3 separate regions of the Homo sapiens genome follow, and all the other regions are linked to region 2. Evidence: fine-mapped expression QTL. A gene starts in region 2. Each other region holds a variant in brackets. All regions are shown on one strand. Distances are between the middles of the regions.

Region 1 (10,580 bases), 120 kb after region 2:
TAAGACATCTCAGATTCAATGTATTAAAAAGTATATCCAATGTCACAAACCTAAATCCAGTCTACTTGCTGTTAAAAAACAAAGTGGGCCTGAAAGCAAGAAAGCTAAAAGTAACCTTTAATACCACTCAGACTTGGGTCTCCCAATTTACTGCCTATTTTTGTTTCCTTAATTTTTTATTTCTCCCTGTCATTATTATAACACTTCCAAACAATAGTTATTTATTTTTGTCATGGATAAAAACACACTTATTGTTACTTTTAAAAATTATACATGTTATTTTGAAGTGTAACATAGATACAGAAAAGTACATAAATCATAAATATACAGCTCAGTAAACCATAACAAAGTGAACAATCATGTAAGACCAATTGGTAAAAAAATAAAACATTGTGGATATACTAACAGCCTCCCTTGGACTCCTTTTGACCATTCCCCTTTTCTTTCTCCCCTAAAGGAGACCTCCTGACCACTAACACTAAACAATAGTTTAAGTTTGTCAGGAAAACTTCTTTTATAACACCTTTATTGAGATATAATTCATTTACTTTAGAATATTTTCATTAACCTCAAAAGAAACTCTGTATCCATTTGTAGTCACTTCCTATTTTTTCCCAGACCCCACCTTTAAGCCATAGGCAACCAACAATCTACTTTCACTGTACATTTGTTCATTCTGGGCACCTCATAAAAAAAAATCACATAGAATGTGTTTTTGTGATTGGCTTGTTTCACTTAGCATGATCTTTCAAAGGTTTATTCAAGTTTTTCCAGTACTTCACTACTTCCTATTGCTTAATGATATGACATTGTATAGACATACCCCATTTTATTTATTCATTTAACTGTTGATGGATATCTACGTAATTTCCACTTTGATTTTGTTGTGAATAATGCTGCCATCAACATTTGTGTACAGGTTTTTGTGTGTGTGTGTGTGTGTGTAGCACAATTATTATTTAAATTGCATTATATCAAAAGAATAATTCAACAGACAATCATTCCAATCATTTAACATGCAATCATTTTGTGGAGAAAATGCTGGTCCTACAAAAATGCCCTTAACATATAACCTTAACATTAACCTTAACATATAAGGTTAATATGTTACCTTACATGGCAAAAGGGACTTTGCAAATGTGACTAAAGCTATGGACTTTGAAGTGGGAAGATTATCCTGGATTATCAGAATGGGACTAATGTAACCTAATTTAATTTCTCAATTTTCTTAATTTGTTTCTCTAGCCCTACCCTGTATTGACTTCTTATACTCTATGTTCAAAGGTGACAACTCTTCATGAGATGCATCAACTGTGTTCCTCGAACTCAGGCAGGTTGTTGAAGATCACAAGGTACTAGTGGTATAAGAGGATGGGAGGAGAGTAAAGTTAAATCATTTATTCCTCTGGCTCCTTTCCTTTCTGGCTATGGGTTTGCAGTGGTTTTGTTTTTCTCTGGCCTTCTCCTGAACCATTTGTTGAAAAGACTGCTCTTTCCCCCATTGAATTATTGTATTCAAAATATTTGAATAAAACTTTAACTCTGTAGAAAATCAACTGTCCATAAATAGAAGAATTTATTTCTGGGCTTTCAATTCATTTCCATGTATTCATATATCTATCCAGCACTACACTTTCTTGATTGCCAGAGCCTTGACATCAAGAAGTATGTGTCCTTCAAGAAGTACGCATCCTTCAAGTTTTTCTTTTTCAAGATTATGTTGGCTACTCTGAATCCCTTGCATTTCCATATGAATTTTACAATCTGTTTGCATTTTCTGCAAGGACATCAGAAGGAATTTTTATAAGGATTGCACTGAATCTTTGGATCAATTTTGGGAATATTGTCATTTTAAGAATAGTCTTCTGGGACTGTCTTTTCATTTATTTGGGCCTTCTTTAATTTCTAACACTAATGTTTTCTAGTACTCAAGGTACAAGTCTTGAACTTATTTTGCTAAATGTATTCCTAAGTATTTTATTATGATTGGCATGATTGCAAATAGAACTTTTTTAAAAATTTTATTGTTCATTACTAAGGTATAAAAACACAATTGAGTTATGTGTAGTAATCTTGTATTCTGCAAACTGGATGTGCTGATTTTTTTTTTAATTCTAGTGACATCTTTGTGGATTCCGTAGGATTTTCTCTATAAAAGTAATTGTCGTCTACAAGGAGAGATATACTTCTTCCTTTCTTTCTAATATTGATGCTTTTCTTTTCCTCCTCCTCCTTCTCCTCCTCCTCCTCCTCTTTCTTCTTCTTCTCCTTCTTCTTCCTTCTTCTTCTCCTCCTTCTCCTTCATCTTCTCCTCCTCCTTCTTCTTCTTCCTCTCCTCCTCCTTCTCCTTCTTCTTCCTTTCCTCCTCCTTCTTCTTCCTCCTTCTTCTCCTTCTTCTTCTCCTCCTCCTTCTCCTTCTTCTTCCTCTCCGCCTCCTCCTTCTTCTTCCTCCTTCTTCTCCTTCTTCTTCTTTCTTCTTCTTCTCCTTTCTTTCTTCTTCTTCCTCCTCTCTTTTTATTTCTCTCCCTTTTCCTTCTCCCCTCCAGCTCTGCCTTTCCTCTTATTTGTCCTGGATAGAATCATCAGTATAACGTTAAATAGAAGTGCTGAGAGTGGTGGACATATCTTTCTCATTCCTGATGTTAAGGTGAAAATTTTAAGTTCTTTCTGATTAATTATGTTGTTAGCTCCGGAGTTTTTGTACACCAACTTTTTAGTAAGTGTGGGAGTACCTTCTATTAATGGTTTGTTGAGTATTTTTATCATAAAAGACAAATATTATCAACGTTTTTCTGTGTTTATTGAGATGATTATATAATTTTTATTCTTTATTCTATGAATGAGGTATATTATACAAATTATTTGATGCAACCTTGCATTCCAGGGATAAATCCCACCTGGTCATGGCACGTAATATTTTTTAATATGTTGCCAGACTTGATTTGCTAGTATTTAGTTTTTCTATGTGTATATTCATAAATAATATTGGTTTGTATTTTTTTGTGATATCATTGGATGGTCATGGTGCCAGGGTAATACTGGCCTCATATAATACATTGAAAAATTATTCCTCCTATTTTTTGGAAAGAGTTTGTGATGAATTGATGTTAATTCTTCTTTAAATATTGGGTAGAATTCCCCAGTATAACCATCTGAGTCTAGGTTTTTTTCTTTGTTGAAGGTTTAAAAATTATAATTCAAAGTATTTGCTTGCTGTAAGTCTATACAAATTATTTATTTCTTCCTTAGTCAATTTTGTTAGTTTGTGTCTTTCTAGGAATTTTCCATTTTGTCTATCTAATTTGTAGACATCCTTTACTGTTTACCTATTTGTATCTTTATATTTAAAATGGGATTCTTGGGGATAAATATATACTATATAAAAATAAAAAAATACACAATTGAGTGTTGCTTTTATATTTAACCTGAAATACTCTGCCTTTTAAATGGGGTGTTCAGTCCCTTATATTTAATGTGATGATTAAATTTGATTGTAAACTTATTCCTCATTTTCCATACGTTTTCTTTTGTTATGCATGTTATGCTTCTTTTCTTATTTTATATAGTTTATTTTGTATGATTCAATTTTATTTGTGCTTTATTAGCTTTAAATATTCATTGATTTATTTTAGTATTTGTTCTAGGGTTTATAGCTTACACCTTTAGCTTACAGTTTATAAACCGTGAACTATATTTTGGAGTTTTCATTCAAGTGATACTATACCACTTCACATACAGTATAAGAATCTTACAATAGTGTTCTTCCATTTATTTTCTCCTGGTCTTCACACTACTCTTGCCACACATTTTATATCGTCATATGATATAAACCTCACAATGCATTGATATTCACTTTACATTAAAAAGCCATGTAACTTTAAAACATCTTTAAGTGTTTAAAATAAATCTCATTTAAATATAACCACATAATCACTATATCTGGGTCTCTCTGGTCCTTTGTAAAAATCTATATTTCCATCTGATCAAAACTGTGTCAGCCTGAAGGAAGTCCTTTCACATTTTACATAGTTAGATACTACTAGTTATAACTAAGTTGTAGCTG[C/T]TAGTTATATATAAATCATCAGCTTTTGTAGGTGATTAAAAAATTTTGGAATAGCAATTTTGTTTTTATGACATTGTAAACAGTATTTTATATTTTATTTTTTATTTCTTTGTTGATGTGTAAAAACAATTAAATTTTATATCATCCTTGTATACTGCAAACATTATGAATTCTTATATATGTCCTAATACATTTTTAAAAATCCATTACATTTTCTATATACATGTTTATATCATATGTGAACTAAAACAGTCTTTCTTCTTACCTTCCATTTTTTTGTTGTTTAATTTCTTTATTTCATCAGGCATGGACTCCAGTACTGTGCAAACTACATGGGATGAATATGTATATTTTGCCTATTCCTGATCTTTAAAATGAAATAGTATTTTTCCATTCACTACAACAATTGCTATAGGCATTTCATAGATGCTCTTTATGAGATTAAGTAAATTCCCTTCTAGTCTTATTTGAGAGAGATTAAATCTGTAATGATGTTAAGTTCTGTCAAATCATTTTTCTACTCATCATCATATGGTTTTCAAAACTAATAAGATTTGCTTTATGAAAGTAGCATTTAATTAATCTAATGAATGTTCCATGCGCACTTGTGAAGAATGTGTCACCCAAATTTGGGTACAGTGTTTTTTAAACATAATTTATATCAAATTAAAATCTTCTGAATTGTAACTGATTTTCTTTTGTCTAATTATATCCTCAGTTACTGAGAAATGACTGTCAAGATAGTCCATAAATGATTATAATCACTTATAATCCACAAGTAGTTGTGGATTTGTCTATTTCTCTGTTTAGTTATGGTCAATTTTTGTATCAAGTACTCTGAAGCTCTGTAATTAGGTGGATATTCACTAAAAATGTTACATTGTTTTGATGATTAATAGTTTTATTATTGTGAAATATACTTCTTTATCTTTGGTAATATTACTTGTATTTAATATACTTTGTCTAAGATTAATATAACCATATATACTATCTTATTGATATGGACGTGAGAGGGAAATATTGAGTATAAGAGGGCAGTTCCCCAGCAAAGACTCCACCCTCAAGCCTGAAGACCTGCGGCCTTAAATGAGGACAGGCATTTCTGTTTTTGCTACCAAAAAGTTGCCTTTTGGCCTGCGTGCCCCCTATGCTGCCCTAATGTAAACTGCAAACTCCAAGTTCCAGATGAGACCCACAAGTGAGGAGAGGAAGAGGCAAGCAGACCAGCAGACCGGTGGACCAGCAGACCAGCTACAGGGGAATGATGCAGCTCTACTCCAGGGGAAGACCACCTTCCCACTCCATCCTCACTTCCCGCTCCCCATCCATCTCACTGAGAGCCACCTCCGCCACTCAGTAAAACCTTGCACTCATCCTTCAAGCCCTGATTCTTTCAGGACACTAGCAAGAGCTCGGGATACAGAGGACTGTCACACTGGACCCCTTCCCTTGCAATAAGGCAGAAGGTACATTGAGCTGATTAACACACAAGCCATCTGCAGACAGCAAAGCTAAAGGAGCACACTGTAACACACACCCACTTGGGCTTTGGGAGTCGCAGACACCCACCTCTATACACTGCCGTGGGGCTGGAGCCCAAAAGCACTTACCCTGGTCCCTGCACATGCCTGTCTGTGTGCTCCCCTTCCTGTAGAGGTTTAAGCTGTGGGGGCAAACACAGGTGAGCCACACTCCTGTCGCATGTTCTGAGAGGGGAAGCAGGGAACTCTCCCATTTCATTATGATGAGGATGTGCATGATATATCTGTTTCTATCCTTTTACTTTTAGACTGTTTAAGTCTTCATATGTAAAGTGCATCTTTTTAGACATTATGCAATTGCTTGTTTTTATTCTTTTTAATAGTAACTTATAAGATTGTTATCTCTGCCTTTTAATGAATGTATTTTATCCATTTACCATAGAGATAAATTTTGGCACAGTTAGGTTTAATTTTATCATCTTGCTATTTATATCCTAGAGGGTGATAACTTTATCAACTAGAATATGATGCTTATGTATGGGTTATAAAAATTGTTATTATGCAGATTGCATTCATTTCTAAAGTTACTTAGGTCAGCACCTGAGTAACAATGTATGATCGTTTCATACATTTGTAATATAGTTTGGTTTTTTTTGTTATTACATTCTATAGTCTTCCAGGGACTGTCTAGCTTCTTCAATGATACTTTTCTAAATTTGCATATACTCTTTGTACTACAAAGTTTTATGTGTTTGACAAATGCATTGTGTCACTATTACAACCTTGTCTGAATTATTTTTCGTTTTCAGTTTATTCTGGCTTTTAACTTTTTAGTTATGATATTTGTATATATTCATATATATATATTTTATTTATATAAAATTTATGTATTTAGCTATTTTACTTTTATTAGTTCTAGCAATCATAATGTGCATTATTAACTTATCACTATTTATTGTCAGTTAACATAATGGCAATTCACAAATAAAGTGAGAACTTGTGACAGGATAATTCTATTTATTTCTCCATTCTTCGTCTTGTTACTTTCATGTATCTTACTTCTCTGTGTTATAAACTACACAATATATTTTTTAACTTTAAAAGCCAACAGTCTATCTAAAATCTTATTTTAAAAAGTATTTATATTTTCCCACATATTAACCACTATTGTTTTTCCTTATTCTAGACATTAGTTTTCATTTGCAATTTACTTCAGCCTAAAAGCCTTCCTTTAGCATTTGTTGCAGTGTTGGTTTACTGGAAGTGAATCATATCTACTTATTTTTATCTGAATATTTCTTTCTTCCATCCTCATTTTGAAGTATATTTTCACTAGGTATGGAATTCTAAGTTGATCTTTCAACACTTTAAAAGATGTTGTTCCCTTGCCGTCTGGTTCCCCCCGCTCTGTATGCACTGTGTCTTATTTATCTGGTAGCTGCTTTTAGACTTTTTATATTTGTTTTCCAAAGTTTGACTATGATGTACCTAGGTATGAACTTCTTTGTTCTGATTTTCCTTTGTGTTTCCTTAGGCTTTGGGTCTGTAAGTTAAGGTTTTGGGTCAAATTTTGCAAGTTTTTCGTCATTATTTCTTCAAATAGTTTTCTTGCTCATTCTTTATGTTCTCACTTTCTAGAACTCAAATTACATACATGTATGTTTGCTAATGTAATATTTTTTAAAAAATAAATCTTATCCTTTGTTCATTTTCCCCCAATCTTATATTCTTCATGTACTTTTATTTGGATAATTACTATTAATCTCTTTTTATGTTTACCAATTATTCCTTCTGCCTTGTTCATTTGTTTCTAAAACAAACTAATTCATTTTTGTTTCCTATGTTGTTCTTTTCAGTTAGAAATATCAATTTGATTTTCTATTATCTATTTGATATCTCTTCTAAATATTTCATATCCGCAGCCATTCTTTCCATCTTACAGTAAACATTTAACATTTCTATAATAGTTTTCTTAAAATCTTTGATGACTAATTACATGATCTGAAGTATCTGCGATTTTGCTTCTATTGATTAATTTTGCCGTTAGTTATAGGCCATATTTTCCTACTTCTTCATAATCCCTTCACATGACCACATGGCATACAGTATATCTAAAGGAAAAATGGATATTAAATTTTTATCTCTCCATCTCTATCTCCTACAGTTTGAAAGCCCTTTCTTTCATCAGGTACCTAAGGTGAAGAGTTGCCCTATTAGATTTTACCAAGAACTAGCTTGAAGTTTTAATTATATTGTGTTCACCATTGATTTCCAATGGGATTGTGGAGATTGCACTTTACCCTTTAGCCCTACCCTCAGCTTTCAGAGCAGTAGCCACAGAGGGTCTAATCCCTCGATCTTTTCAGGATTTGAGCTAGGAGTGGTTTGGGTTCTAGATTTAGTTGTTTTTGGCTCACTTGTATATTCTCCTTCAGCAGAGCCCTTGAATCTGAACAAACTGAGTGAGACTATGCAAACACTGTTTTCCAGCCCATATCCATTGCTAATACTGCTGCTTTCTCTGGTATTCTTCATCAAAATTTCTAGCTGAAGGAATTGCCAAGATGAAATATTTACTTTTGTATTTGGGTCTCTCACATATTTTTAATCTATCTTTCTAGCCATACTGACATGAAAAGCTCATTTGTTTTTTCTTTGTCATTGTAAAGTCTCCCTGTCTAAGGTGGGCCTCTCATGGGCACAGCCACACTCACAAGAGACACTTGTCCCTAGTTCTTGAAGATCTGCACTTCTTTGTCCACCTATAGAGAATTTTTTAATGGAGTCTTGCCCTGTTGCCCATCACAGCTCACTGCAACCTCAGCCTCCTGGGTTCAAGTGATTATCCTGCCTTGGCCTCCTGAGTAGCTGGGATTACAGGTGCCCACCATTACATCCAGCAGATTTTTTGTATTTTTATTAGAGATGGGGTTTCACCATGTTGGCCAGGCTGGTCTCGAACTCCTGACCTCAAGTGATCTGCCTGCCCCAGCTTCCCAAAGTGCTGGGATTATAGACGTGAGCCACCATGCCTAGCCTCTTTGTCTGCCTATAGATGTTTCATCTCTTTTTGGCCTTAACTTATTACAGATTCTTTGAATCAACTGCTCTACAATAGATTTACAGGAAAGTATGCTATTTTGTTAGTTTTTTTCCTTGTTGTTAACACAGGTCCTATGGTCTTCCACGTTCTACTACATCTTAATCAGAAGTGAAACTTTCCACCATTGCTTATTGCCTGTGTTTCCCCAATAATCTAATTTGTCTTATTTTTTTCTTCCCTTCCTTCCACAAAGCAATCCATTTACAAAAGAACAATCAAAGTCATCTTCAAAAGTAGCATAAAACAGTTTTTTTCCCTTGTGAATAAAATGCATTATTTTCATATGTGAATCATAAGGCAATCTTTCTCTGGAATTCTTCAACCAAATGCCTCTTTGTAATGACATTTTCTTTAGTCATTAGTTTATCTCCCAAAGTAGCTCAGATCTGTAGGCAGCAGATTTAAATCTAGCTAGTGGACTTTATGCTTCAATTGTTTGAAAGTTGATGTATTAGAAAACTTTGGGCTGCTATAATACAATTTCATGGATTACGTGGCTTAAACACAGTTCTAGAAGCTAGAAGTCCACCATCAAGGTGCCAACAAATTTGATTTCTGGTAAAGACTCACTTTCTGGCTTGTGAATTTTCACTTTATTACTTTGTCCTCACATGGCATTTCCTTTGTACTCATGCAGCGAGAGCTCTGGTGGCCCTGGCCTTTCTTCTTCTTATAAGGGCACTAATCCTATTGAATTAGGGTCCCATTGTATGACTTCATTTAACCTTAATAACTTCTATAAAGGCCCTATCTCCAAATACAGTCACATTGGAGGTTGGCACTTTTACATATAAATTTTGAGGGGATACAATTCTGTCCATAACAGTTGGCACTTATATTATGTTCAAAATGTAAATGTATATTTTATTTTTATCTGTGTATTTTAAAGGACTTTTGCATGACTTGTGCCTGCCTGGTCAACCAAGTACCTAAAGGCTTGGCCATGCTCCACTCCCTAAATTAGTCAGTTCTGTATCATCCCACAAAGAAAAAGTCTGAATGCTTTTTCTGCAAACAATCTGAAGCAACAGGATGAGCACTCAAGGTATCTCATTACACTCACATGTAATTCACATGGAATTAAGTGAGGCAAGGCAGATCTTGTGATCTCTAGATGGTAGGGATGAATCAACGCATCCCTTTCTGCTATTGGTGTATGTGAAAGTTGCCTGGGATGATGAGAAACTCCAACCCTTAATACATCCCTTTACTGAGTCCCTCCACTTGCTTTCCACTGTGTCTCTGTGGATGGAAGGTGGTCTTCAGCCTTACTTGTACTCTGCTTACAGGTAGCGGTCATTGTGACAGACTCCCAGCATCTATTCTACCCTTTGATTAGTCTCAGCCAGTTAACGATAATTTCACTTCTTTTCGATTGGGTGAGGAATGTTCATGTGACTGAACTGTGGCTTTCTGTAGATAAGGAGAAGTCTGCTAAGAAGCTTCTGAGAATTATGTAATCATTCCCAAGAGAAGGCTAGAAGAACAAGTGTATGGGGTCTTGACTGAATGCGAGGCCAGCGGCCATCTTTTTGCCAGCTTCATGATTAAGCTAACACTGAGGGTAGCAGAGCAGAATGATAAAGTGAGGGGTTTTTCCTAATAAAATTTTGAATCACTCAGTTAATTCATCTTTCAGCCCACTCCACCTCTGAATTTCCTATTATGTATGACAGAATTTCAGGATTTCTGTTACTTGCATGCAAGTGTATCTGAAGCAATGCAACATTTGTAGTGAATTGGTCATGTATACATAGAAGTTCATTAGAAGGATTAAAAAATCTGCCTCTAGCTTCACCTCTAGAACTGGAACATTATTCCTTTATCAGACTACAGTGGCCCTCCCTTAGCCACAAAGGATACAAGACCCCCAGCAGATGCTAGAAATCAGAGATGGTACTAAACCTCGAATATACTATGATTTTTCCTATAC
Region 2 (10,580 bases):
AGGAAATACATGTCTCAGGAAAGTAACTGTATTTTTGAGCTTAATTACAAGTTAGAACTTTTTATTCAGGAACTCTATTTGTCATAAATTAACCTGAAAACCACTCATTCATCCTCCTTTTTCTGCAAAATTTCAAACCCTAAGACATGAAATTGAAGACATGATGCTTGAAATTTAAGTATTTTTAAAAAACACAGTTATGTTGTCATAACTTTGGAATTGAAAATACTTACAGTCTCTCTAGTTCTTTAAGATCCTGGAATGCTCCTCTTTCAATGGTGCTAATCTTATTCTCCATAAGCTGACTGAAATGCAAAATATAACATGCTTCTTAATGTTACCACTCACCATCTGAATAAATTTCAATTCAGCAACTGAAAACTTGTAAACTCTTTCCCTTTATAAAGTTAAATTGTGCTCTGATTTGAGATCCAATATCAAATTTAATAATAATATATCTGAGTGAACTCATGGAAGGGAAATAGCAGTGTCTGCATCACAAAACTTAATACAAATGCAGTTTCTCATGAGATTTACTGGTCAAAACTCTGACCCTTAAACTAATAGTATATCTGAAGAGTAATCCTTGACACTGAAGCTTTGATAGCTTTCTTTGATACACTGGTTTTCAACTTAACCAAAGAATCAAAATACAGTAATTCATCATATACATACTTCAATTCTGACATGGATACACATCAGCAACTGGAATAATTTGTAATGACCAAAATGTGTCTCTTAAAACTTAGAACACTGAATGCACAATGGTCAAAACTGTATGGCTACTGGGATGTCAATATTTACAATCCTGTGGGTGAGAACAATTTAACATTACATTGACTCGCAAGTGGTGGTTTACTCACAGCTAATTTAACCCACTAATTAAAGAAGTAATCATATTGCAACAATTTTATAGAAGCTACAAAGACACAAAATATAAAAACTCAAAATATGACTAATGTATCATTATAAACTCTGCTGAAAATTTGAATGGTTGATTTTAATGCTTGATATTAGATTTTCGCAAAAAAATAAGAATCCTTTTGTTATCAATAATAAAATACAGATCCACTTAAATATTTTAGTTAATTTCAAATCCTAAAAGTATCAAATGTTTCTTATTACTTATTCATTTTGTGAAAACAATTATTCAACATTTTTATATGCATAAAGCGCTTAGGGTATGGTATAACAAAGATCTGAGGTCATTTCTGGATTATTGGTTCTATGGCATGCTTCCAACCTTAAAATAAAAGCCCCAATTTTTATTAAATGTTGTAGTACAATGATAAACACAGAAAAAAGGAAAGCATGACCTTTTAAATGTTTTATGTTACTGTCATCAGAATAGTCATAAAAACTGAGGCCAGTAATGATTCAAAATATGCAACCTTAAAAAATTATTTAAAAATACAGAGGATGCACTTACAGAACTCTTAGATGTCTAAGACCAGCAAAATCTGTCTTCGTAATTCTTGTGATGTTATTTCCATTTAAATCCCTAAGAGAAAAACCAGAAAGTGAAAGTTCCATTTTATTTCTATGTTTACCTGCTTCAAGTAAAGTTTAGAGTAAATCAGAACTAAAAGTTAATTCAATTACTAAAGTAGTATACAAAGTATGTAGGAAGGAGAAGAGGATAACCTTTAAAAGGATATTTTTAACATGACTCAACACATTTACAAGGTTCATTCTTGCTGGCATATGACAAGAAAATGAAGTGGTTACATTATCACAAAAAAGTTTTCGTTTGTTTTGTGTATGGGAGAGTCCTTTCCATTTTTGTTTCTGTAAGGATTGTATATTAATTTCACAGGTATTCTGCTATTTTACTATAATTGTTAGGCACCCCCCCCAAAAAAAAAGTTCCCTTCAGGAGGTTAAATGCCCAATTTTCTCATGCTATTCAGGAAGAAATTTTATAAAAATTCAGAACACTGTCCTTAGGTAGCATGGTGGCGAAACTTCCTAAGGCACAGAAAAAAATTAGTGCCATCAAAACAACTGCACTTCAAAGACTTGCATTCATAGGCATTTACCTTCCAACAATTCTGTTTGTATTAAAACTTAATTCTTCATTTGCAGCTCAGGGAACCCCGCTGTGATTGTAAAGTGAAAACTACTAACAGGGGCAAGAATGGAAATAGTATTCAGGCCCTGACATTTTTGTTCAGATTTCTGCAGCACTTTTCCTTCAGGAGTCACGATCTCCTTTTCTGGCATTTCAGGTCAAGATCTAAACTTGCCCTGGTTCCAATCACTTCAAGTAAAACCAGGCTTTGCTGCGGTTTGAATGCTCTTCATAGAAGTAAGCTCTATATCACCTTTGACTCTACAACATCATGTTTGAAATCTGTATTCAAACTGTTTCAATGATAGAATTTTACAAGTCAGCACCCAGTAAACTATTTTCTGGAAACTTTTTGTTCATCCCTCATAAGGATGTATATTTTTTCAAGGACCTGAAATTCAATTGCTACGCTCCCCCCTCACCCCCACCCACCCAAGTGCATTCCCTTTTTGTTGAGTAAGACATGTTCGTGCTTAAACTTTAAACTGTTCTGAATAGCATGAAATGACAAGTGCTAAAACAGAATTCTGCGTGGCTTCTCTTCCTTTCTACTCAACCCACTTCTCCATGCTAAGCAGAGTACCATTCAGTTGTTCCTAAAATTGTTGGGCTATTCGATATAACACGAATCTCCACCCACCACCCTACACAAATGTGGATCGAATCCTGACAAGGCACCCCTAGTAGAGCCCCGATTTGGCCAGCTCGGAGAGGTGAGAAAGGAGTAAGGGTAACCTAGTGAGGCTGGGGGTAGAAGAGCCATTTGCAAAGCAAAAGGTGGCTCAACTTGGGCCTTAAAACTAAGGGCGAGAGAAATGGGTTGGATAAGAAGGGCGACTTGAAGTGCAATGGGCTGCGCGGGTGGAGACGTGCGGGTCAGAGCGCCTCCTCTCCACGGCCCGAAACCCTTACACCCCGGGGGCAAAGAGGCCGCGGGACGAATCCAGACGCGCTGGCCCCTGCCGGCCTAGCCCCGCGCCCTTCGCTTACTCCCGGCCCACACGCAACCGCGAGAGCGGAACGTGCCTAGGGCGGCCGGACTGGCGCGGGGCGGCGGCCTCGGCGTTCACAAAGAGAACGGCCTCCATGCTCCACTTCGCTGAACTCTGGAAGCGCCTCATCAGGAGCGCGTGGGCCGTCAACACCGGGTCTGCATTTACTTCTTCATTAGAGACTCGCAAAGACAGGGAGGCGGGGACGTCTGCGAGCAACGGAGCGCGAAGAGGGGAAGGCAGGGGAACTGCTGCCACGTGAAGGGGCGCAGAAACTGCCAGAAAGGTGGATGGGGACGCAGGGGTTCAGCAGGAAGGGCCGGAGGGGGCAGCCGGGCACCGCCGGGTCGCCGCAGTGGTAAGACCTGGTTGGGCTGGTTTGCGCTGGAGAACCAGTGCTAACTTCGCTTAACGGATGGGACACGGTCCTCCCTCGCAGTCGCCCGCTGAGACAAGTCCCTAGGGGCCTGACGCCGTCTTCCCCTCCCCGGAGAAGTGGGGGGCGGGGGGCTGCGCGAGGCTACTATGCGAGGTGTCGCCGTCCTGGGGCACCCTTCTCCCCGCGACCTGTGAGAAGCACCCCCAGGCACTCCATGACCCCTTCTTCCTAACCTTCGCCCCCAGGAGGGTGACAAAAAATCGGGGAAGGCAAGTTTCTCTCTTTTGAGTCTCCCTGCTATCCCCTCCGCGCCAGCCTGCGACAAGAGCGAGGACTGGGCTCTGAAACCGACCTGGATGCTGGCAATCGCAAGGTGACTCCGTTTATGGACTCTGGAGAACAAAGTGGCGTCTCACTTGCCCCGGGCATCCTCCAGTACTTGTCCCCTATCTACCCGCTCCCCAGCCCCAGAGAACTAGCCAGCAAGGAGCTGCGAGTGGCGGGACGAGAGCAGGGGAGGGAGAACTAGCGCAGCTGCCAGCGGACCCGCCCCTCCTTGGACAGAGGCCCTTCCCTGGCCAGTGCCCTCCCGGAGAGCTCAACCCCAGGATGTGCATGGGGGAGAGCTAGCGAGGGCTGCCCCAGGCACAGGACCCTGAGCTGACAGGTTCCTCCAGTGGAGGCAGGGGTGCGCGGCCCGGATGGGGAGAGGGGAAGACGAAGAGCGCATACTCACAGTCTCTCGGTGTTGCGGGGGATATTCCTGGGCACGCTGCGCAGCGCCAGCCCGTGACAGTCCACTGTGCTGCCCGAGCAAGAGCACTGCGCCGGGCACGCCTGCGGTGCCACCTTGTTCAGGATCGCCAGCACTAACCCCAGCGACAGGGACAGCATCTGCCAGCCAACGCCGCGCATCTTTCCCCGCCGCCTCCTTCCTCGCCGGCACTGGGGGCTTTCTTTAGCTTGCTGCTCCGAGGGAACCGCGCAGTGTCTGAGGCCCAGTGCCCGGCGGGGCTAGCAACCCAGAGTGCCAGGGAAAATGTGCACCAAATAATATGGAACAAGGCAGTAGAGCCCACTCAGGCACACGCCTCCCACCGCCCTCTCCACCCTCCTCTGGCAGAGCAGGAGCTCCTTGGGCAACTTTAGGTCCTGAGGATGAATCCGCCTGGCCAGGGCTGCAAGGAGACCCCAAGAGCAGCGGAGAGGAGATCACGCGTCTTCTGTCTCCCAAGGATGAACTTGGCGGTAAAAGAGCTGGGGCTTCCAACGGCTGCTAAGATGCAGGGGCCGGTTGTTGTGGGGAGGGCGGTCCTCTGATCCCACGCACGCTTCTGCAAATCCGATGCCAGTGGCGAAGGTACAAGACAGAAGAGGGGATCTCAATAGGTATTATGGCCCCGATCAAAGTGGGCTCCGGAAGCTAGAAGGCGCGGAAGCCCAGCGGGCCCGTAGCAGAGCGCGCGGGGCAACTGGGCATGGCGCGCGGGGGTGCACGGGGCGGACGCGCAGTTCTGGGGGCGCACGGCTCTGGACTCTGCTCACTCACGCGGCCTCTCCCTCGCCCTCGACTCCGCCGCAGCCTGGACCGGTCCTCGCGGTCTCCCGACAGCCAACGATGGTTTACAAACACACATGCACTTCGCTGAAGGATGTCTGGGCAATCCCGCCTCCCGCTCGGCGTCCTTGGCGACGCTCTGCACCAGGACCTGCCCCGAGGTCACGCAGAAAAGACAAAAGGGCAGTCGGGCCGCCGCAGCCGGGCAGAAATATCCACTAGTCAGCACTCCGGCGAGGAACTCCAAGAGGCCAAGTGGAGGATGAGAGCTGCTGCGAAGACTGAGTGGGGACTGACTGGGGGCGGACTTAAAAACCAGGCAGACCGGAAGGAGTGGAAAGGCAAAGGCCAAGGTTGGAGGTGTCAGCGTCCTGCTGGGGCGTACTGGAGAATGGCTCGGTGGCAGGTGGGCGGGTGGGATCCACTACTCCAGGCAGAGCCAGGCGGCAGCTGAATGGCAGTAGTGTGTGCGCGCGTGTCAACCCCGCTCGTCTCCCAGATAAGCCGCAGCTCCGCGGCAGACACCTGATGGCAAAGGTAGAAGAAACAAGAGCCGGGTTCCGGAGGGCGCAGAGCCACGGCCGGCCCCCGGCGGTCTCCCACTAGTGGTTCGTCCTTCTCAAAGTGCAGCAACTTTTCCCAGGCTTTGAATTCCGTCCCCCAAGGCCACAGTGGCGGTACCCCTGCCGGCGTGGCGACGCCGCCCGGCTCCTGGCGCTGCACCTGACGCGGCGGCCGCAGTCCCGGGTAGTCCTTCTCCTTCTAGCCCCTTCCCCTCTCCCGCTGCTTTCCTGGCCTCCCGCTCCAGGGAGCGAGGTCGGGGAGAGGGAGGGCGACGACTCAGAGCGGGGACTCGGTGGCTCTGCCGACTCCGGAGCCCCTGGCAAGTGTCTAAACAATAGGACGGACGCAGCAGCCCAAGTCTCGCTTGTCTGGAAGGAAGGTGGGTTGTTGTCGTAACTGGAGTTGTTCGCTGGGGCTGACTGGCGCTCAGCGTAGCCAAACAAAAACCCGGCCCGCGCCTCCGGAGCCGGCTGCGGGCCCCCGGCGCTCCCCTTTCTGCTCAGCACTCCCGCCGTGCCCAGAAAGCGCGGCAGCTTCGGCCTGCGCCTGGGCGCTTCGGCGCTCCCATGCCTCGCAGCTGCCTCCGCCTCCGCCGCCGCCGCCGCCGCCGCCTTCTTTTTTTTAACCACAGTCTGCGGCAGCCACCACCACCGCCGCCGCCAAGCTCCGCCGTCCGGGCGCTTCCCAAATAAATAACACCAAGTCCGAAGTTGAGCCGGCGCGGGCCTTATATAGCCGCCCGAGCCTCCGCCCCCTGACCCCGCCCCTCGAGGCCCAGGCCCGCCCCCTGGCTCCGCTCTGGGAGCCCGCACCTCGCTGGGGAGAGGGGAGAGGTGAGGCCGGGGCTGCCAGCGCTGGGCGGAGGCGGCGGCTGGCGGCGCGCGTTCCCGTGCGCCCTGGCTCGCCCCCTCGCTCCCACGCGCGGGCAAACTTGGCCCGAAGAAGGAGCCACCCGAGCCCCAGCCCCCAACTCCTTGGCCCCAGAGGTGACCTGGGCTCGGAGATAGTCGTTTGCAGTGGGAGAATGGGAAGAGGTCGGCTTTGAACGCGGCTCATAAATAAACAGCCCTGCCAGTGCCTCTCCTGCAGCTTTTGCCACGCGATCCTTAAGGGGGCTGCTCACTCTTTGCAGCGCAGCAAGAGACAGAGAGACAGAAACAGAGAAATTATGATTTAAATTTAAGAAAAATCCTACCGAAATAGATCTGCCTGCGCTTACAGACACACACGTGTATTTTGGGGAGCTGAAAAGTTCAGTTTTTGCAAGTTGGAAAACAGCATTTTCCAACCTTCTTGCTTGCCTTTCTATCTCCAAGCCACCCCCTTCCGTTTAACCCTTCCTTTGTAGACACACACTGAACCACACCGTGGTCAGTTGATGTCTTGGATATTCAATAGGCTCACAAAACTCTTAAGGGCTTGAACGTATCTGTGTGATTTTTTACTCTCTTATGAGAGAAAGGAGGGGAAAAAATAAATCCCTAGCAACGCACATTATACCAGAAGGTTTTCTTTATTTCAGGGCAGTTCTGGATATTTTTTTCCCCGCTATGTTTTGAAAGAGAATTTCCTTGTTTCATCTTGTCTCTTTAGTGTGACGTATGTCTGGCAACGGCTGCCTCTCTCGCCCCCCTTTCCCCCCCAGCAAGAGCCAATGTCACTGTAAGTTTGAAATGACATCTAAATGACTCTGCTCCTTCTCTTGGATTTAATATGCATCATATTGTTGTTCTTCCTCCCATTTCCACGTTAAGAAGCTTTCCCTGGAATTTGTGCAAGCCCCCGCCTAATACCAGCCTCATATTGTAGTAGTTATTTGTATAATTATTAGAAGCTTCCTTGAAAGCAAGACCTGTCCAACTCTTTGTATTTCCAGCATCTATGCCTGCCACATAATAGGTTTCCTCATAAGTAACCGATTTCTTTAACTCAAGAGTATGCTCAACCTAAAATCTCTGCAATATCCTCATTAACGTTTTTCCTGGTTAACATTTTCTAAGATGTCCTTTCATAATGGCTACCCCTACTTACCTCATTTTGCCTGCCTTGGAAAACGTAAGCCTTTTCGAGGACACGCCCAAAGGCAGGGTACCATCTGATAACTGAATTGGAACTCTTAGGATTACTCATTTTAATGCCACAGATTTATATTGCTCTATTCTTTTAAAACCTTCAAAAACATTTGACATTTATTAACTCATTTGTCCTTCTAGATTTTAGCTTAAAGGTCTGTTATGTAACTTCCTTGAGGAGGAGAAAAAAGAAGCCCTTGTCACATTTTCTTGTAAGGAAAATGAGATAAAGAACAAGTACCTGTCATTGAGGAAGGAGCTCCCCCAACCCTCAGTGAATTTTCCTTAGTGTGTACCAGTAAATTATGTGGTTAAATATGGTTGCTGATACATTAATTTATTTAATTTCACAACTTTAATATCTTGTCAGCAACAAGAGGTGTTTGTGTTCAACTTTGTGCACCACATAGAATTGTTGTTCCATATTTTAATTCCAAGAACATATCCTGCATTCCAAATATTTATAAATAATATTATTGATATTGTTGCATAAGTGAAATTCACAGACATAAGTTCAAGTTTCATTCTATCTCTGATCACTTTCTGTTTTGTGTAAAACCAAGGAGAAACTAACATACATAGCAACATGCCTACAGAAACATCTTTTTAAAATTTGAAGCCAATTTAAATAAGAAGCTATGTTCAGTGGATTTCATTCAGAAAAAAGAAAGACTGTAATTAATTCTTGAGAGGCATATCTTACTATTTTTTGCGTTATTAACTTTTTAGTTGATAAGGGGAATTTTATACATACATAAACAACCAGGTCTCCTGTCCTTTAACATATTACTGTATTATTCCATTAGTATTACTGCAGGATGTTTGTTGAAGGCCTTGCAGGCTTCAGAAACATTAACTTCTAGGTCTTAATTCTTTATGGATTATTTTGCTCCCATATGAATTTCTGAGTTTCTCTTTCACTGTTAAACCCAGCCTGAAGAAAGCCTTCTGTGGTGCCTCTTGTCACCACATGAGGTCTCCATAAATCCTGACCTGGATTAAGCAGAAGTGGAATCCACTATAGCCAATATCCGAGTCTCCTATTATCTTGCAAAAAAAAAAAAAAAATCCAGTTCGTACAATAATTTGGAAACAATGTAGACAATCACCTATGCAGCAAAGAAATAAAAAGCATCAGAATAATGTGTAGGTTATTAAATGTCTAATAAACTTTGCATTTTTTTGAAATAAAAAGGTTGTGAAGTTGGGTTATATGGGAAAAGGGAGGAAGAAAAGAGAATTTACGAAAAAGAGATAAAGAAGAGTAAAAATTATTGTTCTCTGTCTTTTTAAACAGAGGTAGGTAACAGTAATTGCATTGATCAAATTCATGAAACTTAATTCCTTGAATTTAACTGCCTTCATGTTACTATTTTCCATTGTTGCAATGTGTTCATTTTAATTATTTGATATTTCTTTCATTTAAATTATCTGATATTTCTCACAATATCTTTGTATTGGAAACGTAGACATGGAACCCTAATATAATGGAAATTAAGATTTAACCAAAATTTGTTTCAAGCCTACTAAATTCCAAGCTATTTGACAGAGTTACATCCACAGTGATGGTTGCTATTTCACTCCTTACAGTAGAGGATGTTGGTCTTCATGCAAGTCGCAGCTTATTAAATGGCAGAGCTAGAACCAGAACCTAAGTTCTCTGACCTCAATTCTCAATTGATTCTTCTTCACCCAACTGTTTATCTGTAGATCCACTGGAACTCGTGGGGATCAAGGAATCTATAGATCCTCAGGAATGATCACCCTCATACAGGAGATGGTCATGTCTCTGCACACACTCCTTAAGGGCATCTACAGGGAGCAGTAAAGAGCTAGAGTCCTCAGCACCAGCACTTCAAGGATACTGAAACCTGACCTGCTTCTGGACATAGCTTTGACTTTGAGATGATTCTCTAGGTGAGTGGTTCTCAGCATGTGGTCCCTGGACCAACAGCATCGTAATCGCCAGGACTGTAGTTGGAGATACAACTTCTCAGGCCCTAACTCAAACCCACAAAATCAGAAAATCTGGGAACAGAAGCCAGAAGGCTGTGTTCTCACAAGCCCTCCAAGAGATTTTGATGTTCACTAAAATTTGAGATCCATTACTCAAGAGCTGCTCTGTGTTTGTATCTGTGACACATTGGTACGGAGAATGAAGCAGCAAAGAATAATAGATAACAGCTGCTGAATTGTCTTCAGCTTCTCATTCCTGGGGGTTGACAATTGCACATTACTGATTACCTCTAGGGGGCACCAAAATATTTTGATGTACAGCTCCGCAGAGGCAATAAGACTTTAGTTTTATTTTCCAAGGAAATGGCCTTCAGAAGTGGAAAGGGCTTCCTAGTTATTACATCAGCAACCTGCCCGAATATGCCTCAACCCTTTAAAAAAATCTGTTATATTTATAGGGATTTTTTCCAGTTTAATACCACTTTTGTATGGATGCATTGATTCCTATTTCTCATGATTATTGTGAAAATTAAGATATTATTTTTCAATCTAACAGCACAGGGCCTGGCATAGAGCTAGGTGCTTATTAAATAAAGGGTATTTCATTATTACTTTTAATATCTGAAATTTTCTAAAATATTATATTTGTATTATGAGAATAGATAACATATTCCTTTAGTTATTACTATGATCCAATAACTTCTTGTATTGAGTCCTGGGAAGGGCTGGGCTGAGGGTGATACTTTACAAGAAGAACAAATCAACTTACAATAATCAAGCCCTGCTCAGACCTACAGTATCCCATGAACAAAAGAGTGGCGATAGATATAATTAGTTTTGTGCTATGTGTGTCACATAATATAAACTAATCTTTGAAGAGGTAAAGTTGGTTTCCCGCTGCCAGAATAACTGCTTGTTGATTATGCAGTGAAATTAAAGGGAGAAGTTCTAAACCTTGATCTGCTGATAAGTGGGAGTGCTTGGGTAG
Region 3 (10,580 bases), 20 kb before region 2:
TCATATATTTGAACATAAAGCTTCATATTCAGATAAAATGGGAATAAAAAAGATGTAAACTTTAAAGATAGTTTTAGAGAGGTACCCTTAAAGTGTTACTAACTATGCAGCTACTCTTGACAGTACACATTACATCTTCCAAATGTTATCACTCTGCCTCAAGACCATTCCTTTTTGGTTAACTGTCTCATAAAAGAGCAAGAGTAAATAAAAGCATTTTATGACGTCTAATCTTTTAGTTATTTCTAATTAAGTGAATCTGAGTTTTCATATTAATGGCATTATTCTTCCCTATTGTGTTTGTGTGTGTATATATATATATATTAATTTGGATATAGCTACATCATGATGAAAATCTTTCATCATGATGTAGCTATATCCAAATTAATGATTAAAAATAATAGAATAATGACATAACTTACCAATAGAATATGCTTGCATATGAATACCTACATTGAGGCAGATTCTAAACAATGTAACTACAGTGGTAGTTTAACAGATGCAAAATGTTTAAGTCAGTGTTCTAAACATTTTAAACTTCTTAAGATAAACTAATCAGTAATTTCAAATGTTTTACCCTAGAAAATGTATAATGTAAATTCAATCATATTTATATACTGTTTACACAAAAGTAGTGTCCAATCAAAATGTATTTTAATATATTAGTCTAGAAACTTATGAGAAGAACACCAGATTTAAAATTTAATTTAAATTAATATTTTTTTAAAGGGTCAAGGTTAAACTGTTTGTCTTCCTTAAAAAGTTTATAATGTCTTTTGTGTCTTTACTTACAAAAAAATTCTCAATGAAACTTGGATATTAAAACCTCCCAGGAAACCAACAATAAAAGCTGCTAAGAATTTCACAAGTTTTTTTTCCCCTTAGGTGTTAATTAAATGATCATTTAACACTGAAATGTAAACACAACATTTTCATCTCCTGACAGCACAGCCTATTATAAATCCGGGGTAATAAAAGTCTTGGTGTTAATGCTCTGAACCAAGTTCCCACAACACTCTAAGATGCCTTGTCGTGTCTAAGGTTAAGCATCTAGACACAAAACAAAGCTTGCGCCTACTCGACTTCCAGTCCAATTTTCCCATCGCCCAGTGACCTAGGTAACACTTTGAGCAATAAAGAATAAATTTAATTTCTCCAGCATTTTGTGAGGATTAGGAACAATTGTTGGCTTGCAATGACTTTTTATCCTTGGATTCTTTTTCCTCCAGAGCATTCCTCAGGTCCCAAAAGAGAATTCTGATGGTTTAAGACATAGAACAAACAGAACTTTAAATTAGGCTTTTTTCAATCAATTGGAACTGTCGGAGGGGAAGCAATCAACCTTTCTCTGTGCTGTTCTCAGCTATTCACATACTTCGAGCTTTAATCTTTCACTAGCAGAAGAAACCTATCATGATGGGGCAAAGCTATTTTTTCCAATTCTGTTTCCAGATTTACTTATTTCTCTTTTAAGTTTTTGTTTGTTTGTTTGTTTTGTTTTTAACACTTAAATCAAGTTGCCATACTTTGCTATAAACTTTCATTTGGGGGATGTTTCAAGAGACACAGATGTTCTCTTAATAACATTTCACACCTCTATGCTGTACCCTAGGCCATAGGTGTTGTCAAGGACTGGTCTTTTTACTCTTCACTGCTTCCTTCTCTAAGATTTAGTTTCTTTTAAAACTTCCATCCAAAGGTTTCTTATATCAAAATTTATAAAATATTTTAAGGTTAACCCTCCAGAAAAAATTCAGTGATTATAATCAACTCAGTTATAGGTAACATGTAATGAGTGGATATACACCATATAGATCTATGCTACTTTGAGAAGTACTGGAATTGTGGAAAAAAGAACAAAACAAAACGACTTCTGGTTCAAACTTGTCTCATAATGTAACATTATTTAGATTTAAAGTGCTAAAAGATTTGCAATTTTTACTGGATTTTGACATAATTAGTAGTCTAAAAATACACTTAAAATCACCTATGCAATTTATATAAAGATGACAATGTTCCATAGATCAAATCATATGTACATATTACAAAGCTAACAGAGTAATCTTATATTATTTTAAAAAATAAAATTTTTATTAGTAGTGAAAGTGTTCCTTAGCAACATATGTAAATCTTCTGAACAACTTTCAGAATACTTTACCTATAGTTTAAGGAGTTTACTCAGCATTTTCTAACATTTGTATTTTTCCTTCATTTGTCATTCAGAAAAACACATCATTAAAACAGCAATCTAAATATATGCACTAACAAATAGTTCCTGAGTCACAGTCTTTTTGTTTCTATCTGTAATTTATTTTATAGATGAATTTTAAAACTATATGAATCATCAACTGGGAGAGCATGAAGAGATCTCATTAAGAATATCCTGGCCCTAATGTACCTTCTGCAGCCAAGTAAAGAGAAATAACATGGTACAAATGCACATTTTATGTCAATTTGCTGTGGTAAGATAATTAATGTGACTACACATATTTACGTGTTACTACAGTAAGGATAAATGCAAGAGGGCTGTGCAATAGTATCAGGAACTTTGCTGACTGAGGGCAAGTTGCAAGGACATCTGAGTGACTATCATTTCCATCTTGCTTGCAATGAAAGGATGACAATAATATAATTATAGTTTCTATCATACTTGAAAATTTACAATGTTCCTTTGAATATGGAATCTAAATTTTACTGTGCTATCCCCAGAAAGTAAATTGTATGATCCTTCCCATTTTACAGATAAGAAACCTCAACAATACGGTTGTCTACTGACTTCCAAAGTTAACAGAACTGCAAGTATCTGAGTAGGCATTTAAACACTATCATTTTACACAACCTCCCTTAAGATAGAAAGTAAATTGATTTCAGTGTCTTAAAACATAAAGCAAATACATTAAAATTACCTAAATATAACTAAAACCCTACCAACCCTTATTCCTAGAAATAATGTTTATGTAAATTTCAGTCCCCAAAATTGTAACCTTGAGATTGTAGTGGCAATTTCATTATTTAAAAACTTTAAAATATTACCTGATTATGTGTATACGATATATTTTTTACATGAATATGATAGACTGAAATTCACATATTTGATCACTCTCAATGAACTCTCTAGGCATTAATTCACGCAGTATAGGTCAGACGTTAGCAACAGCTGAGGCCCACAAATACCACATATTATATAGAGCCACATATTTTGTTAGTTTCCCTTCTGAGCATTGATCATAGTATTCTACAAATTCAAGTTGGCAGTCCATAAGTACTTGTTGGTGGAGTTAGAAACATTTGCACTTGTGAAAGCAGTCGTTTAAATAAGTACAGCTGAGTGAAAAAAAAAAAAACACAGAAACTTTCTTGCATTCTTGCATTTGATTTTCTTATGCTATGAGCTATGCTGTGGATTTCACACTCAGAAGGTCCACTCTGTGTGTTGGTAACAGCAGAAACCGGACAACTGTTAGCTTTCTTTAGCAACAAGTCTATTAGTAATTCCTTTGAAGTAAAAACCATCAACACTAGATCTGGCAAAATCTCAAATATGATCTTAATCTTCATTGGATTTAGGACGTTTAAATCACAGGATTACACGTTGATTTAAAAAATAAAAGTAGAAGTAGGTCCTGCTCAGGGCTTTGCACTTTTCTTTCTTTCATGACAAGTGGTAATGGCTATTTTGAGTTGTGTTCAGATGTCCATATATCAAGTCTGTTGCCTATCTATTTGAAAATAAAGTTTTGGTTAAATAGTGGTAATTTTTTTAAATGCAATACTCCTTGTATGCCTCTATTTTTTAAGTGGCAAAAACATAGTCCCTTGGGCCCAATAAGTAATTAAAAAGTTACCTTAGTAATGAAGGACTTGGTGTTTTAATCACTGAAAGTGAACACTTTTCTAAGTTTTCTCTCTCGATACAGAGTCAATCTGTTCCCCTTAGCAAAGTATCAGTATATAATTCAGATAGTGTTTCCTTACACCAAATTAGAACACAGACGCCACCTTCGACGGAACTTTCACCCTTAGCACATGAAGCTCTTTGGCAGTCTCAGCAACAGAAATCAGCGGTAGCTATCATGGCAGCGCGCTAGATGAGTAATGATGTCGGTCTGGCTGAACAACAGTAACCGTAGCAACTGTAACCTGCAATTCCTGCACAATCACAGTCGGATTTATTGTGGCAGGGGCCAAACAGGCCAAGAGTAAAATGAAGCAGGAAACGATGGCACCTGACATCTCTAGTAGTCCACACTTTAATCAGAGCTGGCAGAAATTAATTCAAGAGAAATTTGTACATGGGCTCCTCTGTTGTATCCTGCTTTCATGGTTGACTCCAAGAAACCTATGAGACTAAACTGACATCCAAGAACTAGGGAGTTCGTTTTATAAAACATTTTATTAAATTAAGGTATATTTTGCTTAGGTGAAAAATGGATCATTTTGATTGTGTTATGTCTACTGAAACACTTCAATGTTTGAGAAACCTAGGGGAATCAAACATTTAATTGACCAAGTTATCCTTTAAATTTAATTTGGTTCTCCATTATTTATAATGCCGTCCCAGAGTTACTATTTGCTCATTCAAGTTACAAACCCTGAACCCAACAGAGATTTAATTCAATACATCAAACACTTGATGAGAGCTTCTAAAGGTCAAGCCTTATACTAGACCCTGGGGACATTAAAAAAAAGTTTTCATAATACACGTCTAAGTAGCACTTATATGTATAATCATAAAAATAATTCTAAGATAATAATTGATAAGTATAATAATGGCTATATCTGCGTAGTGAGATAATAGATAATTTTTACTTCCTATTTTCTATTTTTTTCTGAATTTCCTAGATCTTTTTTACAATGAGCATGTGTTACTCTTATAACTATTAAAAAAAAATAAGTCTCCTTCTATGGCAGTGATGGAAAGGAAAATAAAGACAGCTTAATTATATATATTTGTTATGCTGAACAAATTAATTGATTACCTTAATAAAAAAAATTAAGTTTTCCTCTTAAGAAAGTCCCAATTATTATAGTTATCAAAAGCAATTTTGAGAATCTGAAATCCTATCTGAGAGATAATGAATTATGACCTGGCCAATGAAATTAAGCAGTCAAAACCTATTTGTCTCAGGTAAGTATTCACTAGGCCATAAAGAGAGTCTTTGGCCTTAAAAATACCATTCCTAATGTTAGATAATTTAGTCGCTCCAAAACTCACTGGGGAATCATGAATGGCACTTGAGAACCAGAAGTAAAAAGTTTTCATTCAAAGAAGTAGAGAAAATGAGTCCCTGGGACAGATGCAGTTCTTTTTGTTTGTTTGTTTAGTTTTGGTTTGGTTTGGCAGATAAAAGTGAAAAATGAGTTTCTAAAAAGTGCTTTGGATACTTAAGCTTACGTTAGAAGTCTCAGTAAATATAATATACTCAAAGAAATAAACCGAAAACCACAAAACAAATATTTATAACCAAATGCCTAAC[C/T]GCAGTACTACCAATGAAATTCCTCTTTAATGAGTCCAGATTAGTAGTCGCAAACTCATCAAAAAGTGTGAATCACTTACTCTTAAGCCTCTTTTAAGGTTACACTTATCAGGAAGATTTGTATTAGTACTCATAAATTTCAATCAATCATAATCAACTGTTTCAAAATTCCCTGCAATCTCTTCTTCAGTTAACCAGCTCCAGATTTCTTTAAAAATAATTTCCTCTACTCTTAGGTTCATAATAAAAATGCAACCTTGATTTTGGAGGAGGAGCAAAGGGGAAGATAGAGTCTATAAGTTAAGAAAACTTCATGCTGGCTTATTTTTTTTTTTTTTAACCTCCAACCTATCGTCCCTTATTTTAGTTTCCCTGGACTTGCACTTTCCATCTGTCAACAAGTGCTTGTAATTTTATTACACTGTCCTGTAGTTTATGCAGAGTTGGTATTATTTTACAGAGTTCTGTTAATGGACTGGATAAATGGTAATGCTATTTAAACTAGTCTCCTACTCCAACAAACACAGCTGCAACTGTACTACTATTTCTGAGCAAACATCTTGACCTGAACATGTAGTGCTCTCTCAACCCGTCCAAAGAGAAATTGGAGCAGACAGCAAAGGAAAAGCATATTTGGCCGCTAGCAGCAACCAAGTGTGTCGAATCATAATTCATATACAGTATACCCTCCTTTTCTTTTATATTGCATTTAGAGTCCATGAAAAGCATGTGTGCTTCTTCCCCTGGCATCTTATTTTCAACCACTAGTCAAAGGGCGATTATTTATTCCAAAGCTCAAAGAAAAGCAACACAATGTCCAGTATATCCAACTAGCTTTAATCTAAGCAAACAATGCGAAAAATCAAACTTCAGTGTATAAACTATGTATTAAACCAGTAAACTTTTTTATTAGTGATATACCTGGGAAAACATAGTGTTAAGTATGAATAAAGTATACAATAACTAAGAAAAGAAATTGAAACATTAATTCGTATCTCGGAACAACCTATACAGAGGAAGTAAATCCTAAATTTGTTTTTTTATGAGTTCTGCATATAGTATGCCTCTACTGCATTAGACAGTAGGGGCAACTATGGCTTGCTATATATATATATATAATATATAAATATAAATTATATATAAATATTATATATAAATTAATTATATATTATATTACATATAAATATATACTATGTATAATAATTATATATTATATAAATGTCAAAACATATATTCTATAAATATATATTTATAGAATACTTATATATTGTTTTACACATATTTATAAAACGATCATATATATATCAACTATCAAATACTTTCCTTGTCCTATCATTTTTCCCCATTATTTGTCAAAAATTCCATATCCTTTGTTCTGTCACTTGTTCTTCTTGTGAAAAAAATATGTTTTTAAATGAGCATTATAAAGGATGTTGTGCATATAGGTTTGTGCACATTTTCCCATCTGCTAGAATATTTGTTTCAGGTGAGCTACTTGGCATCTGTATCATGTGAGAAAATGTGAACTTGTACCCTTGCTTTTCATAATTACACTAGCCAGTAGTGAGCTTCACAAGCACGTGTTCCTTTGTTTATTAAAGACTTCCAATGGCAGTTGTTTAATTTAATTAATTATCACCATCATAAACAAGTGGTCACATGCAGCTTATAACTTATTCTCTCGAGAGAAAAAGCACTCAACAATTCACCTAAGTCTAATTCAGATGAAGCAACAGTTCCTTAACTCAAATTAAGATTCCTGACGTGAGGATGCAAATAAAAATTCCACCTCTAGTTTTCTATGTACATCCAGTGCCTAAATCTGATGTCAAATCTCATGTAAAGGGATACACTTTGTCAATATTGAGTGCTAGGCCATCAAGTTATATAACTCCTGAAACATAAAAATATTCACATCCCTCTTGTAACTAGCTCCACCTAACAAACACTGCTTTAGCTGTTATTACTCCCCAGGACAAATCCTTTGAGCCAGAAAGACACATAAAAAAATCTGAACACATTTTCTAGCTGCCTGTTTCCCCATTTTCCAACACGCATTTAATTAATTAGGAAATGCTGTCATAGGTTTTATGGATTCTGTTTCTTTAATTCACTTAAAGATTTCAAGTCTTTTTTCATACAGCAGCTGCATACAGTTATAAAATCATAACAAAACATAAAAGAAAATCTCTTGGTCTGCTATGAGATATTGTCAAAGATGGCAAAATGTCAAGGAGAATATAATTTGCTGATGAGGGATTCTGCAATGGATTATACCACCTTAAACTGGGGGAAATTAATCCAAGTCGATTCCTTAAAAATCTCCTCAGTCACCAATAACTAAAGGTGAAAGTGAAATACTATCAAAACCAATTCTATGGCCCTTTTTAGAAACTAAGCACAAATATTTAGATATAATTATCTACTGATATGCATACCTATAATCTTTATAGCAAACCTACACCCTATTTCCTAAGTAAAAATAGTTATTAGATAATTTTTGTTAAAAATGCAATTCCAAGGTTTCTTCATTTTATTTTTAAAATTTACTTAAATTGGTCCAATTGAGCAGCAGGGAACACAAAAAAGAAGAGAAAAATGTCAGGTGATTTTAGCTATCCTTAGAGGAACAAAGTCAGGAAAGACTCTGGAGAGATCTGGTATGTCAGCTGGGGAATATCTCCCTATAGTAAGTTAAGGTTGTTAAGGTTTCAGGAGGATGTAACAAAGATCCTGGCTATTCTTGGGGGTGAAGGGTGTGAGAGGACAGTCCTCCTACTTCTGGAATTGATAACCACATTGAACTAGTAGGCTACAAAGACAAGTTCAGAAAAAGGAACTATGCTCACTTTCTCTACAAACAGTACCATATGGGACACCCACCATCCAGGTGGGGGCTAATGGAGCAATTTACTCTATACATTCCAGCAGTTTTTTTCACAACATGCATATACCTCAATAATCATTGCTATTTATTTTTCCAAAACTTTGTAGCTTATCTCCCATCTGCACAAAGTCATTTCATATGGCTGAAAATCTCATTTTAAATGCTTTCAAAATGTGTTTTCACTATTACACATTAGGTCAGTGCAAAAGCATTCCAGGGAGGAAAAAGTGATTCCCCCTAATACTCACATTATGCTCCTTTAAGGAATTACTTCCTTTAATAGTCTATGACGTATTTGATATGAAAACCTTGCCATACAGTCATTCATATTGCAGAGGCTGAAATTGTGGCTTTAAAGGAAACATTTAAGAGGAAATTTACAGCCCTCTTTAAATACCTTATAATAATATTTCGGACTAATAAACACGACTACTTGAGCCCAGAAACAATACCAAAAAAGCTGACATTAAAAATCTCAACTTTATAAGAACACACTGCCAACTTCCTCTTAAGAGGAAACAGTAGCAATTTTCTCCCTTCAGAACTTAATCAAACATTTCCATTAAAAGGTAGGTAAATCTCGCCATCATCACGTTACCAAAAAAATAATAATAATCCAATTTCCATAACACATACATAAACCGCTAAATCCTAACCAAATAAAACAACTGGAACCACTAGAAAACAAATCATAAATTTCCTAAAGAAAAAACACAAACTTTTAATCCATTAATCTATTGATGAACAGATTCCAGGAAAGCACACACAAACAGATCCAAAATACATTTAATAAAACACAAGGTACTACCCAAAGCAACAATAACTATTTGTGTCTACTTACAGCCTGTATAGCTTCGCAGTCCCAAGAAACAGCAACTCAGGAAACAGCTGAAGGTGATTTCTGTTTAAACGCCTTTTGAGAAAACAAAAACAAAGCTTATGTTACATAGAAAATACCCAACAATGAGACTGTGATTTGGTAGTGTCATGCCTCATCCTGTATTTCAGAAAAGAATGAAATGACATTCAGGAGAATTCAAGCATTGCAAATCAAAAGTTGGTTACACCTTTTGTTACATGACTCTTTACAGCAGTTTTCCATTGTGCTTACTAAGATGATGATTACTGGGGTCTAAACTTTAAACTGAAATCCTGTGCAACATCAGTCAACCAGAATACACACAATGATAAAGGATTTTTGTGATTCAGTCTTAGGCGCCTAAGGTAGGTGACTTCAATATCCAGCAGAAATACCACAGTGAATGGTGTCTAAAATAATCCATACACAGTCCCAATTGGCCTAAAAGTTCAGCCAAGGAATTGTGGGGAGATGGAAATTTCAACTTTCTTAGCTTTTCATTTAGTTGGGAGGAAAAAAAAAAAAGGTGTGAGAAATTGTCAGCATGATTTGTCCCATAGGCAAAATCAGGAGAATACCAACCCAGAGTTCAAACCTCAACCCACAGCTTCCAACCCTTAACTGAATTTAAGGCTCAGCATTATAACTAACAGTTGTGTCAAATCAGTTTCAGTAATGTTTTAAAATGTCTAAGTAAATTGGAATGTTTTAAATGTTTTAGAAAAGAGTGTGATTGCAACTGTAACTCAATTTAAGCCCTGATGCTTGGTATGCACACCTATTAAAGAAAGAGTGGGTAAATACTATCTGTGATGTAGTCATATCCCAATCCCATCTGTTTTCAGTGTACAATTTAACATTTAATTTAAAATAACTGTCTATTTCTCTGCTTTTCCCAAATCTAAATAAAACGATAAAGAGCTGATGTAACATTTTGCACTCAAATGACTTACAAGCTGCCTAGCTCGAGAGGAGTAGAGGCATATTATATAGTATAGTTTCTGGATATAGTTCCAGAAGGTAATGTCACACTGAGGAAACCAGAGGTATTTCTTAAGTTTTAAAGATAAATAGTAAAAGGGACAGGAAAAGAGGGCATATCAATCTTGACATATTGCAAGGGTCATCGGGTAGATGCAGAATTATACTTATTTAGTCTCCAGAGGGCAGAAATGGGCCCCTTGATTGTAACTCCTAAGAAATTTGATTATACAGAAGACCTTTCTAAGAATTAGCTATTAAGAAATGGAAACTCTCAACTGCTTATCTCAAAATGTATTCAAGCAGAGGCTATGAATTTTTTTTGGAAAATGATATAATTTTTTAAAATCCTGTAAGTGAGAAGCGAGACCAGGTA

Alleles and levels. Positions count from the first base shown, and alleles are read on the strand shown. Sizes are in standard deviations (SD) of each study's normalised expression. Not every link is listed here.
In carriers of allele T in region 1, the expression in esophagus mucosa of the gene that starts at base 6,268 in region 2 tends to be higher than with C alone (moderate effect, 0.40 SD a copy in GTEx).

Evidence for each region. PIP is the estimated chance that this variant, and not a neighbour inherited with it, causes the effect.
Region 1: its variant is fine-mapped to the expression of SLIT2 in esophagus mucosa (GTEx, PIP 0.97).
Region 3: its variant is fine-mapped to the expression of SLIT2 in nasal epithelium (TOPMed, PIP above 0.99).

Annotation. Positions count from the first base shown.
Region 1 is chr4:20,126,218-20,136,797 of GRCh38, reverse strand. No RefSeq gene overlaps it. Among named protein-coding and RNA genes, the nearest start is that of SLIT2, 120 kb to the left of the region's middle. The variant C/T (reference allele first, on the strand shown) is at 4,064.
Region 2 is chr4:20,247,593-20,258,172 of GRCh38, reverse strand. It overlaps SLIT2 (slit guidance ligand 2), which reads right to left and starts at 6,268. Exons shown (of 37, transcript NM_004787.4): 1 at 4,179-6,268; 2 at 1,430-1,501; 3 at 234-305. The coding sequence starts at 4,357. RefSeq lists enhancers at 3,555-4,353, 4,354-5,152.
Region 3 is chr4:20,267,507-20,278,086 of GRCh38, reverse strand. It overlaps SLIT2 (slit guidance ligand 2), which reads right to left. Exons shown (of 37, transcript NM_004787.4): 4 at 9,206-9,277. Among named protein-coding and RNA genes, the nearest start is that of SLIT2, 21 kb to the right of the region's middle. The variant C/T (reference allele first, on the strand shown) is at 5,478.